2 separate regions of the Homo sapiens genome follow, and region 2 is linked to region 1. The links come from fine-mapping of genetic effects on gene expression. A gene starts in region 1. The other region holds a variant in brackets. All regions are shown on one strand. Distances are from middle to middle.

Region 1 (5,371 bases):
GAACATCTAGTCGGCCAAGCCCAACAGGCACCATAGACCACAGAACTCAGCAGACCCCCAGATCCTTGAACCTGGAGGGACATGAGAAGGCCTCATGGTCAAGCTCCTGTCCCTAGCCAGGATAATCCTTTCTAAAAGTGCCTGCCTCATTCCTTGCTGCCTGCCACCTCCATTCTCCACAAAGAACCCCCTCACGCTGTGCTTTCAGTGGCTCAGCCTTTGCTTAGGCCTTGGCCATGAGTGGGTAACTCCTGCCATACCTTCCAAACCACCCTTCCTCAAAAACCCTTCCTGCATCTCTCAAGGCTAGATGTGATGCTCCTACTGCTCCCTGGGCCAACCCCTAGCATGGCTCTTATTTGTCCCTCATTCACTCAAATATCTACTTAAGCACCTGCTCCATGATCTGTATAAGGCAATGAGCACCAGATGGGGAGTGCAGAAAGCCAGGCTCAACTGCACAGCTTTGCCACCAACTGGCTGTGTGACTTTGGACCCATCGTTCCTCACTGAGCCTCAGTTTCCCCGGTAAAGTGGGAAAGATTCTGCAGCTCAGCCTAACTTCCAGGGCTTCTGTGAGACTGGGCGGGATGTGAAAGCATGCTGTAAACACTCAGGGTGAGTCATGGTTATCAGAACCTAACCCCTCTGTAGCCTGAGCTCATTTTTGTCCATCCCATCCCTGGAGTCCCCCTCTCTCCCAGGGGGCTGGTAGCCTGTTGGGGATGAACTTGGGAGCTCATGCCTTCCAAGGGGTTGGCACCTGGGTGAGAAATTGGGCAGGAGCACAGCCTACAGGGATGAGAACTTTAAACAAAAACAGCCCATAAATCTTGCCATATAGGGGCAGGGGCCTGGCATGGCTGGGGCCAAGAAGGCATGCCAGGCTGTTCTCTGAGGCAACAGGAGTAAAAGATTTTACGCTAAAGTCATCAAGAAGCCACTGGAAGCACAGCGGGAGGAGGTGGAGACAAAGAACACGGAGCTAGGGGACTAGATACCTGGGTTCTGCTCTGTGTTGCTCTGTGACCTCAGTCATGCTCCTTCCCTTTTCTAGGCCTTAACCTCCTATCTGTATAGTGGGTGCGTCAGCCCAGGTAGTACCCAAAGGCCCTTTCCAACTCAGACAGGCTGTGCCAGCTTTACTTGCCCTTCAGAGCTTTGGCTGTGCCAGGGACAGGCAGGAACAGCTGGTAAGTCTCTCAGAAGGAGCAGGAGCCAAAGAACCTGTGCTTACTGTGACCTCCTCTTCCAGCTTGTGGAAGGGTCAGGCTCTTCCCCGTTTCCTCCACCTCTAGGTAGATGGAATTCACCCTTGGTCCACTTTGCAAGCTACAAGGTTGACACAGGTGCAGAGAACACAGACTCTCAGATGCTTAGGGATCATCCTGCTCATCACTCCCCATACAGGGAGAAACTGAGACCCAGGGAGACACAAGGGCTTGCTTGGGGTCACCCAGTATGTTTATGGCACCACCAGGACTTACACCCAGGGCTAATGTCTGCCTACCACTTGCTCAGTTACAAGTCTCAGCCAAGGCTCAGGTCTCTCCGCCTTGTCATCCCTGTCAGCCAGCCCCTTCCTTCTACTGATAGAGCCAAGCCTCAGTTTCCCTGTTGGAGTGAGTAAAGACATGAGGGTTTCTAGGTCAGGAGTTGGTGAGAATTTCAATCTGGTAATAAAGGGAGAGCAAGGAAAGCCAGGAGGTGTCAGAGAAGGGAGTAGAATCCTCCAGGCTAGGACTACTGTTAGGCAGAAAAACCTGTACTCAGGGCACAAGCAAAGCAGGAGCAGAGGGAGGACTAAAGTTCATTGCAAAACTATTAAACACTGTCACAGTTTGGGGCCTCTCAAGGTCTCAAGGGGGAATGATGATAAAGTTTAAGGGATCACCTAGTCCCACCTGGCTAGGGGGCAGGTAGTGGTAAGAAAAGGGGCCAGAATTTGAGGGTCCTTCTTCCCCTCTGCCTCACAGTGTCCCCTGAGGAGGCTATCTTTCTAGCTCCAGGCTCTGACCTTCTGGGCTCGTCAGACCCCAAGGGGCAGCTGGTCTCACTGCAAGAAACCTGAGAATTGTCCCCTGGGCCCTGACCCAGCTCCAAGGCCCCTTGGGGGAAGGACAGGAAGGGAGGAGAGGGCCACAGAACGCAGTAGATCTCCTCCCTCTTTGGCCCCTCCCAGCTACCCCAAGGGCAGCCCACACTCACCAGCTCTGGGGCCTGCAAGAGCCCTAAGACCAGCGCCTCAAACTTTAAAGCGTCATCACCTGGGCATATTGTTAAAAGGCAGCTTCTGTCTTGGCAAGACTGGGCCTGAGCCTGAGATTCTGCATTTCTGACAGGTCCCCAGGGATGCTGATACTGCGAGTCTGTGGAACACTCTTCGAGCAGCCCTGAGATTATCAGCCTTTAACCCCCGGGGGGAGGAAGCCGAAGGCCCAGAGAGGTCAAGTCACTTGTCCATGGCCACACAGCGAACAGCCCCAGACCGAAAGCAGAGGGCACCTGCCACAGACACACGACATCTCCCCACCCGAGGCAGCGGGAATCAGCTGCCTTTCCCTGGCCCGGGTGCCGTGTTTGTAAACTCGGCTGCTTGGTGCGGCTCGGGCCGGGGTAAAGGGCGCCTCCCAGCAGAGCCTCCCTCGTCTCTGAGCTGGCCTCTCCAGGTTCTCCGTCCGGTATCCCGGGCCGACCAGAGAGAGCCCGGGGCGCCGAGTCCTCTGCGGCGGAGCGATTCCGCACTCCCCTCTCCTCTGAAAGCAAACTTCTCCGCCGGCGCCCTTTACCTTTTTCGGGGGTTTGCAGCTGCTCAGCCTGCTGTGTCTGCAGCCCATCCTCCTCCGGGGGCTCCCGGACGCCGCTTCCCAACTCCGGGGCCCCCAGAGGAGCCTGCGATCCGGGCCCCGCTGCCCGCTCCGCGCCCGCCGGCTGGGGCTGCCGGCGAGACCCTGAAACTGAACCTGGAAGCGCTGTCTTGAGCCTGAGCTGGGGCGGCCGCCCGCCGTAAATACCCGAAGAGCGGGGCCTCAGTGTAGCCCGCAGGGCCAGCGGCGCCGCCACCAGAGGCAGGTGACCAGAATCCTTCTAAATAATAGGAAGCTCTGGTCAGGGCAGAAGAAAAGAAAACCTCAAGGAGCAACAGATGCTTTTCCGAACCCTCAGCTAAGAAAGGGCCGGGGGAAAAAATAATTAAAGCAATTATTTGATAAACTAACAACTATCATTCATTGAGGGCTGTTTTTGTCCCAGTTGTTTTATACATTTTATTTCTATTTCTTGCCATATCAGTGCAACAAAGGTATTACTTCCTCCATTTTACAGGTGAGGAAAATGGTGTTCAGAGATGCAACATGATTTGCCTAAGGTCACATGGCTAGTAAGTTACCACAGCCCAGATAGAATCCAGTTCCTTTTTTTTTTTTTTTTTTGCCGCTATCATAGTTCACTGCAGCCTCAAACTCCTGGGCTCAAGCGAGCCTCCCAGCTCAGCCTCCTGAGTAGCTGGGACTACAGAGGCTCACCACCATACCCAACCAAATTCTTTTCTTTTTTCCAGTCTGATTTTGAACGACCGCCCTCAAGCGATCCTCCCACCCTGGCCTCCCAAAGCGTTGGGATTACAGGCATGAGCCACTGCACAGAATACAGTTCTAACTCCAGAACCTAAACTTTGACTCAATGGCCTACAAATAAATCATAATACTAAGTTTATTGTATTTATTTATTTTTGAGACAGAGTCTCGCTCTATTGCCCAGGCTAGAGTGCAGTGGCACGATCTTGGCTCACTGCAACCTCTGCCTCCCAGGTTCAAGTGATTCTCCTGCCTCAGCCTCCCCAGTAGCTGGGATTACAGGCATGCACCACGACACCCAACTAATTTTTGTATTTTTAGTAGAGACAGAGTTTCACCATTTTGACCAGGCTGATCTCAAACTCCCAACCTCAGGTAATCCGCCCGCTTCGGCCTCCCAAAGTCCTGGGATCCCACACCTGGCCAATAATACTAAGTTTAATTTTAATGCCTCCTCACTTCTGGGCTGATAGTTTTTTCCACCTCACAAGCATCTGTAATATTTGACTCTATCCATCTTGGATAGATGTTATTCATCACAACAACCTCTTGAGGCAGGCCAGGTATGGTGACTATGGGACATAAAATGTCAGTGTCTAGGAAAAGGAGCTTTTGTTTATCTTCTCTTTGTTATTAGCTGAGGTTTCTGAAATGGCAATGCAGGAAAAAGATAACCAATTTTGAAAATCAGTGTGTATGCCTATTTGCGTGTATATTGGAATATTAAAGTCAGGCCCAAAACTCTTGGAAAGGTGTGCTGTGAAAACGGCTTAGAGTCATGAATGGGGAAAGAATATGAGACCTCAAAAAAATTGCTCCCTCCATAGGGTACAAAACCAATTGCAAAAGTGTGTAAGAAAGGAAACTAAGGAAACGTGTTATTAGGTTCTCAAAAGCAAGTATAATAGAGAATGGTGGCTCACAAAGTGTGATTCCCAAATCAGCAGTGTCAGCACTACCAGCCGCCTTTGTTGGAAATGCAAATTCTCGGGCCCCACCCCTGGCCTAAACTCTGGGGATGGGGCTTAGGAATCTATGGCTTCATAAGCACTCCACTCATGTCTGGCCTGGGCTAAAGTTTGAGAACCCCTGCCATAGGACGTGCTCCACAGGTACTGAAGAAACAGGATATACTTAAATTATACTAAAATTAACAATGTTTATTGGAACAGTGCTCATGATTAAAAACAAAGAACCCAAAACAACCTAAACAGCCAAGAAAAGAAGGTTGGTTAAATACATTATGCTATATCCATAAAAATAGAATGCCACATAACCAGCAAAAATACTGATGAAGATGAATTTTTTGTGTTACAAAACATAACAAACTCATTTTCATTAAAAAAAAAAATTGAGTGACTACCACTGTATTGGTGAGATTTTGAAATTTTAAAACAGTTTTTTTTTTTTTGAGACAGGATCTTGCAATATCACCCAGGCTGGAGGGCGGTGGAGTGATCATGGCTCACTGCAGCCTCAGTCTTCCAGGCTTAAGTGATCCTCCCACCTGAGCCTCCCGAGTAGCTGAGACCACAAGTGCCTGCCACCAAGCCTAGCTAATTTAAAAAAAAAAAATTTTGTAGGCCAGGCACAGTGGCTCATGCCTGTAATCCCAGCACCTTGGGAGGCTGAGGTGGATGGATCACCTGAGGTCAGGAGTTCGAGACCAGCCTGACCAATATGGTGAAACCCTGTCTTTACTAAAAATACAAAAATTAGCCGGATGTGGTGATGTGTGCCTGTAGTTTCAGCTACTCAGGAGGCTGAGACAGGAGAATTGCTTGAATCCGGGAGGC
Region 2 (5,371 bases), 40 kb before region 1:
TGCAGTGCAGAAGGTGACTTCTCATTCATCCTCGCAGTCTCTCCCACCCCATCCCTCTGTTTTCACCACTTACTTCAACCTCAGCCTCACTCCAAGCCTTGGTCTATTTTGAAGGCCATCCTTTAATCCAGGCTTCACCCTAGCCCCAGGCCCCACATCCACAATTAGGGCAAAGCAAGGGCCAGTGGGGCTTTGGTGCTTGAGGAGAGTGCCCAGAACCACGAGTGGGCTACCCAGGCCCCAGATTTACTCTTCAGAGATCCCCACCATTGGCAGAAGTCCTTGTGAAGACCCACCTCCCCACCCTCCCAGAAAAACACAAAAGTCACATAAATAAGGTGCCGCATGTTCTTTTTAGTTTCCATACATCGTCTGTCCCAGAGTGAGGAGAAGTTGATCTCCTTCCCACATCCACCACAGGCTGCGTGAGGGAAGCCTGGCTCCCCACAACTTGCTCCTTCTCCAGCCCTGCCCCTCTCAATTAAAACAATGCTTTCTTTTTTCTTTTCTTTTTTTTGAGACGGAGTCTTGCTCTGTCACCCGGGCTGGAGTGCAGTGGCGCGATCTTGGCTCACTGCAAGCTCCGCCTCCTGGGTTCACACCATTCTCCAGCCTCAGCCTCCCAAGCTGCTGGGACTACAGGCGCCCACCACCACGCCAAGCTAATTTTTTGTATTTTTTTAGTAGAGACAGGGTTTCACTGTGTTAGCCAGGATGGTCTCAATCTCCCAACCTTGTGATCCACCCACCTCGGCCTCCCAAAGTGCTGGGATTACAGGCGTGAGCCACTGTGCCTGGACTAAAACAATGCTTTCTAAAGCGCATTCTGCAGCCTGATGTGCCTGTGAGGTGAGAGGTGTGGGAGGGACAGAAGCTTTGTTCAAAGAGGTTTGGGAGAGGCTGGATACTTAGCTCCCTTCTTGTAAGTTTGCCACACACATTGGCATATTAAAGGTTCTGAGAAGTCATTCAGGTCACTGATCTGTTTAGGTGTCCCCAAATAACTTGGCCACCAATCATGTCTACTCCTGGACATTAGTTCAATAAACTAGTGTATCGCAGATGTGCTTTGCAAAAAGCTTCATGAAAAAGTACACATGTGATTCCCTCCAGGGCTTTCCTCGAGGCTCCTGGGTGACCTGTCTGACCATGGCTGGAGAATCAGCACAGCACTCCCCTAGCCTCACCTCTTCCCCCATTTGGCTGTGGAAATGGAGAAACACAGTCACCTCTGAACTTCTAAACCTAGAAACAGAAGGAGACTGTACACAGGGGAATACAGAAGGCAGTCTGGGATGATGTCACTATAGAATGACTGATGAAAAATGCAGATTGACTGTTCTGACGCTGGCTTAGGGCCTGGGGCTGAAGCTGGGGACCTTGAGCAAGGCCCTTTGACTCCTGTGATCTGTTTGCCATGTTGCCAATGAGGAATAGGAACCTGCTTCAAGGATCTTATGAGGACCAGGGGAGGGAGGGGTATGGAAAGCCTTTGATGCAAATGCTCTATGCAGAACAGGAGTTATAATTATAGTCTCCATTAGACATGAAGCTTCCTGAGAAGGATCCGAAATCCACAGACTATCAGGACTGGACGGCCTGCTGAGGTTAGTTACTCTAGCCACCCCTTTTCACTGATGGGGAAGCTGAGCACCAGGTTGTAAAAGCCTGGGCCTGGGATCAGGGGCAGTGGGAGGAGGAGTTAAGGCAGGGAGCAGGAATGAAAAAGAAACTAAGTGGGTGAGGGCCAGGGAGAGGAAGATTAAGTCACAGATCTGATTTTCCAGAGCCTGAAGAGAAAAACAGAGCAAAGGATAAGACCCGGATGACAGATGAGATCTAGATTCGACTCTGGGAACTGCTCCATGCCTTGGTTTCCTCATCTGTGCAGGGATGAGGTTCCAGCTCTGATAGATGAATGGACTCACAACCACCAAGCTTGCCCCTGTGCCCAGGTGGCACCAAGACTGAAGGGCCAGGAGGGCTGAGGGGATGCACCTTGCCTGGTAAAGGAAGAGGAGCTCTGGCTACTGTCCCTTGGTGGACACGACTCTGGCCCAGGAATGATGCCTCAGCTGGGGAGGCTGCCTGGCCCTGTCAGCCCCAAGGGCCTTCAGAGACCCCCTCTCTACCACTCACCTTCCCCACTCTGATTTGCGGGGTTTGTCCACACTCCCCCCAACCCCTACTCTGGCCTTCAGACAATCCTAGAATGGGACACTGCAGTGACATAAGAGTCCTTTGACCAGTCCCCCCACCATTTTAATGCAGGGGTAAACTGAGGCTCTGAGCAGGCCAGGGTGGAGTGGAAACACCTAGAGGAAGTTGATAAGTCAGCAAGTCGGCAGCAGAGCTGACAAGCTGGGACCAGGGGCTGTCTCCTTTATGTCAAATGGCCAGCGTGACACAGACTGCCCCTGGGAAAGCCTCGGAACTTCTCGGATTGGGACAGAGTGCTGGGGCAGGGAGGAAATGTCTCCTCTTGCTTATTCCCTTGGCCAACTCAAGGGAAGACGCTTCTCGGGGCCTCCAAAACCCTGTGGGTGATTCCATGTAACTCAAGGCCCCAGGGCTCACTGGGCACACACCCAGGATCTCCATCTCGCTCCCACCCTCGTTCCTTCCTGGAAAAGAACTGAGAGGCTCCTGCTGTCTTCTCCAGAAAAACCTTGGAAGGAGCTGTGACTTCAGGCGTCGTGGTGGGCCCAGGCCCTGCACCCTATGTGGCGAGGAAAGAGACCTCAGTGGGAGTGACAGGGGCCAGAGGGAAGGCAGGCGAGGCATTGGCCCCAAGGACCCGGTACAACAGCTCCTCCTTCTCCTGCTGGAGCTGTCGCCGCAGCTGCACCTCCTTCTCCAGGGCCTCACGCGTGAGAAGCAGGTCTTCTGACAGCTGCCTGTGGATGCACACAGAGCCCAGGGTTGCCTACTGGGAGCAGCTGCCACAGAGACCAACCCATTCCCCCAGGAAGCCTTCCTTAGATGGACCAGCAGCCTGCTGCAGGGTCCCCACTGCCCTCCTT[G/T]TTGGCCTGTATACAAGAGGCAATTCAATCTGTTGACCAAGGAGCGGGGGCCTCACAGACAGGCAGGCAGTTCTGAGCTGCTTCAAATCTCTGCTCTACCACTTAGCTATATAATCTTGAATAAGTTATTCATTCTTCTTAAATTTCAGTCTTCTCATTTGTAAAATGGGAAGAAGAAGAATAGGACCCAGCTCTTAGAGTAATTATGAGGATTAGATGAGAAAATATGTACAGTATTCAATAAATTATGTCTGACACATGATACTAGCTCTTATTTACTAAGCCCTAAGAACTGATTCATTCCACTTAGGCCTGGTGCACTATAAATTTCCTGTTTCCTCCTCCCTATATTGGGCTTTCCCACAGAGTACACTCAGCCAGGACAGAGACAAACAGATACTAATCAAGGCATTGGGACTTTGGTTTCTGAGCAGAACTGCCCCCTTGGGTTTCTTGACTCCCAGGGAAAGAGGAGCCACATTCCCTAAATAGGCCCTGGGCCCACCTGTCAGTCCATTCCTCAGGCCCCTCTAAGACTCTCCCAGCTGGGAATTTTGGCAAAAAGGGTGGGGATGGGAGTAAAGGAGGCAGGAAGACAGCTACCTTGACAGGACCACCTGGTTGCGGCTTCGGACATGGAGGTCCTCATTTTCCTGTTGCAGGGTCGTAATTTTTTCCTCCAATATCAGATTTTTCTCTTTCTATAACAATGAGAATGAGCTCAGAAAGCTGCCAAACTCACGCTGCACGATGTGTGCTGTCACCTCCCTCTTATCTGTGGTCACTGAAAGCACTGATTCATTCTAGACTAGATGTTACATTTCATGGAGCAATAAGGTAACTTAGAAAAAAGTAAAACTAAAAAGTTAACAAAGGGCTGCGGCTTTTTGCCACAGGAGAATGGTAAAAAAAAATTACAGGCCCTACCATCTCATTTCACCATGAGTTCATGGAAGAAAGAATATGTTTTGTTCTCCAAAAGTCAGAAGGATATGATCTATATAAATAAAATTAAGTTTGTCTGTTATGTGTTTCCACAAAAATGAGCGAACAAAATCTATACGGAATGTTTGAGATGATCTGATTAAAATAAAGCCCTGTGGGTGATTCCATGTCACGTGACTCAAGCCCCCAGGGCTCCCTGGGCACACACCCTGGCTCCCCATCTCCCTCCTACCCTCTTTCCTTCCTGAGAAAAGAACGGATGGTGACATGAGATGGTAGTGCCTGTAAGACTTTTTTTTTAAACATTCTCATGTGGCAAAATTAAAAGTCAGCAGCTTTTTGTTAACTCCTTAGTTTTATTTTTTTAATTATAAGTTGTAAGGCACACAGGAGGCCAGGGAGACTTCTACAGCAACATAATCTCTGCTTAGATTCAACCCTAGGGTTTCTGAGGCTTCTGTCCTCCCGTGTTCTCAATGCTACCTGCCCTAGTGTCACCCAAGCTACAGCAACATCAGTAGCCTCAAAAGGCACAGGACTCAGATGATAAGGAGCCACTGCTTGACCCAGCCTGGCCACAGACCATGCTCAGTGGTCAGCACAGGTGGCAGGTCAAAGCTGGAGTGAACTAGGCTGGGACCTCCTCAAACCACCTCCCCTCTGCATGCTTTACAAAGGAAACACCCAGAAAGCGGGAGCCTGAGGCTGCATCCCCCAGCCACTCCCAGTCACAGACCACTGTTTCCATGAGGATCAGCCGCCTGTCCAGCTCATGAATACGCTCATTCTTCATCTCGATGACAAAGTGTAAGCTCTCCAGCTCCTGCTCCCAGAACTGGCTGGGGCTCCCATAATCCTAGACAGGGACAGAGTGACCTCATTAGGCCAGTAGGCTACCTCCCTCCTCCCCATTCTGCCAGCAACTCATTGTTGGACTTTCACAAGTCACCCACCTTCCTCTCTCAGCCCATGTTAAGTGTTTAATATGCTTTATCTCCCTGTATCCGAATATCACCTTTTGAGACATGTGCTAGCACCACAGATGAGGAGACTGTGGTTCGGACAGGTTGAGTCACTTGTGCTAAGTGGCAGGTTTGCTATGTGCACCTAGTTCTCTCTGAATCCAGAACGTGAGCACTTTACTATTCCAGATGCTGCTCTCTGGGCCTTAATTTTCCCATCGGTGAAATGGGAACTCTTTTATTTCCAGGCCCTTGTGTAGGTAAGAGTGCCAGGTCTGAGTCTTGTCCTTGAAGAGGGGCTGGTCTTTCCTGTTGCCCGGCCCTGACCTCCCTGGAGATTCAAGGAGGAAAAGCGCCCAGGGTGCTGCCACCTACCTGGATATGTTTCTTATAGTTTCGGCTCAGAATGGACTCCTCCACCCTCTTCATTTTGGCCTGGAA

Evidence for each region.
Region 2: its variant is fine-mapped to the expression of CCDC69 in whole blood (INTERVAL, PIP above 0.99).

What each region holds. Positions count from the first base shown.
Region 1 is chr5:151,221,134-151,226,504 of GRCh38, forward strand. It overlaps CCDC69 (coiled-coil domain containing 69), which reads right to left and starts at 2,959. Exons shown (of 9, transcript NM_015621.3): 1 at 2,790-2,959. The coding sequence starts at 2,837. It overlaps LOC105378230 (a long non-coding RNA gene), which reads left to right. Exons shown (of 4, transcript NR_160730.1): 4 at 2,343-3,217. RefSeq lists enhancers at 742-961, 2,382-2,491, 2,512-2,711 and silencers at 2,832-2,911, 4,395-4,689.
Region 2 is chr5:151,180,718-151,186,088 of GRCh38, forward strand. CCDC69 (coiled-coil domain containing 69) reads right to left here. Exons shown (of 9, transcript NM_015621.3): 6 at 5,306-5,371; 7 at 4,705-4,824; 8 at 3,627-3,724; 9 at 335-2,897. The coding sequence ends at 2,720. Among named protein-coding and RNA genes, the nearest start is that of ANXA6, 26 kb to the left of the region's middle. The variant G/T (reference allele first, on the strand shown) is at 3,024.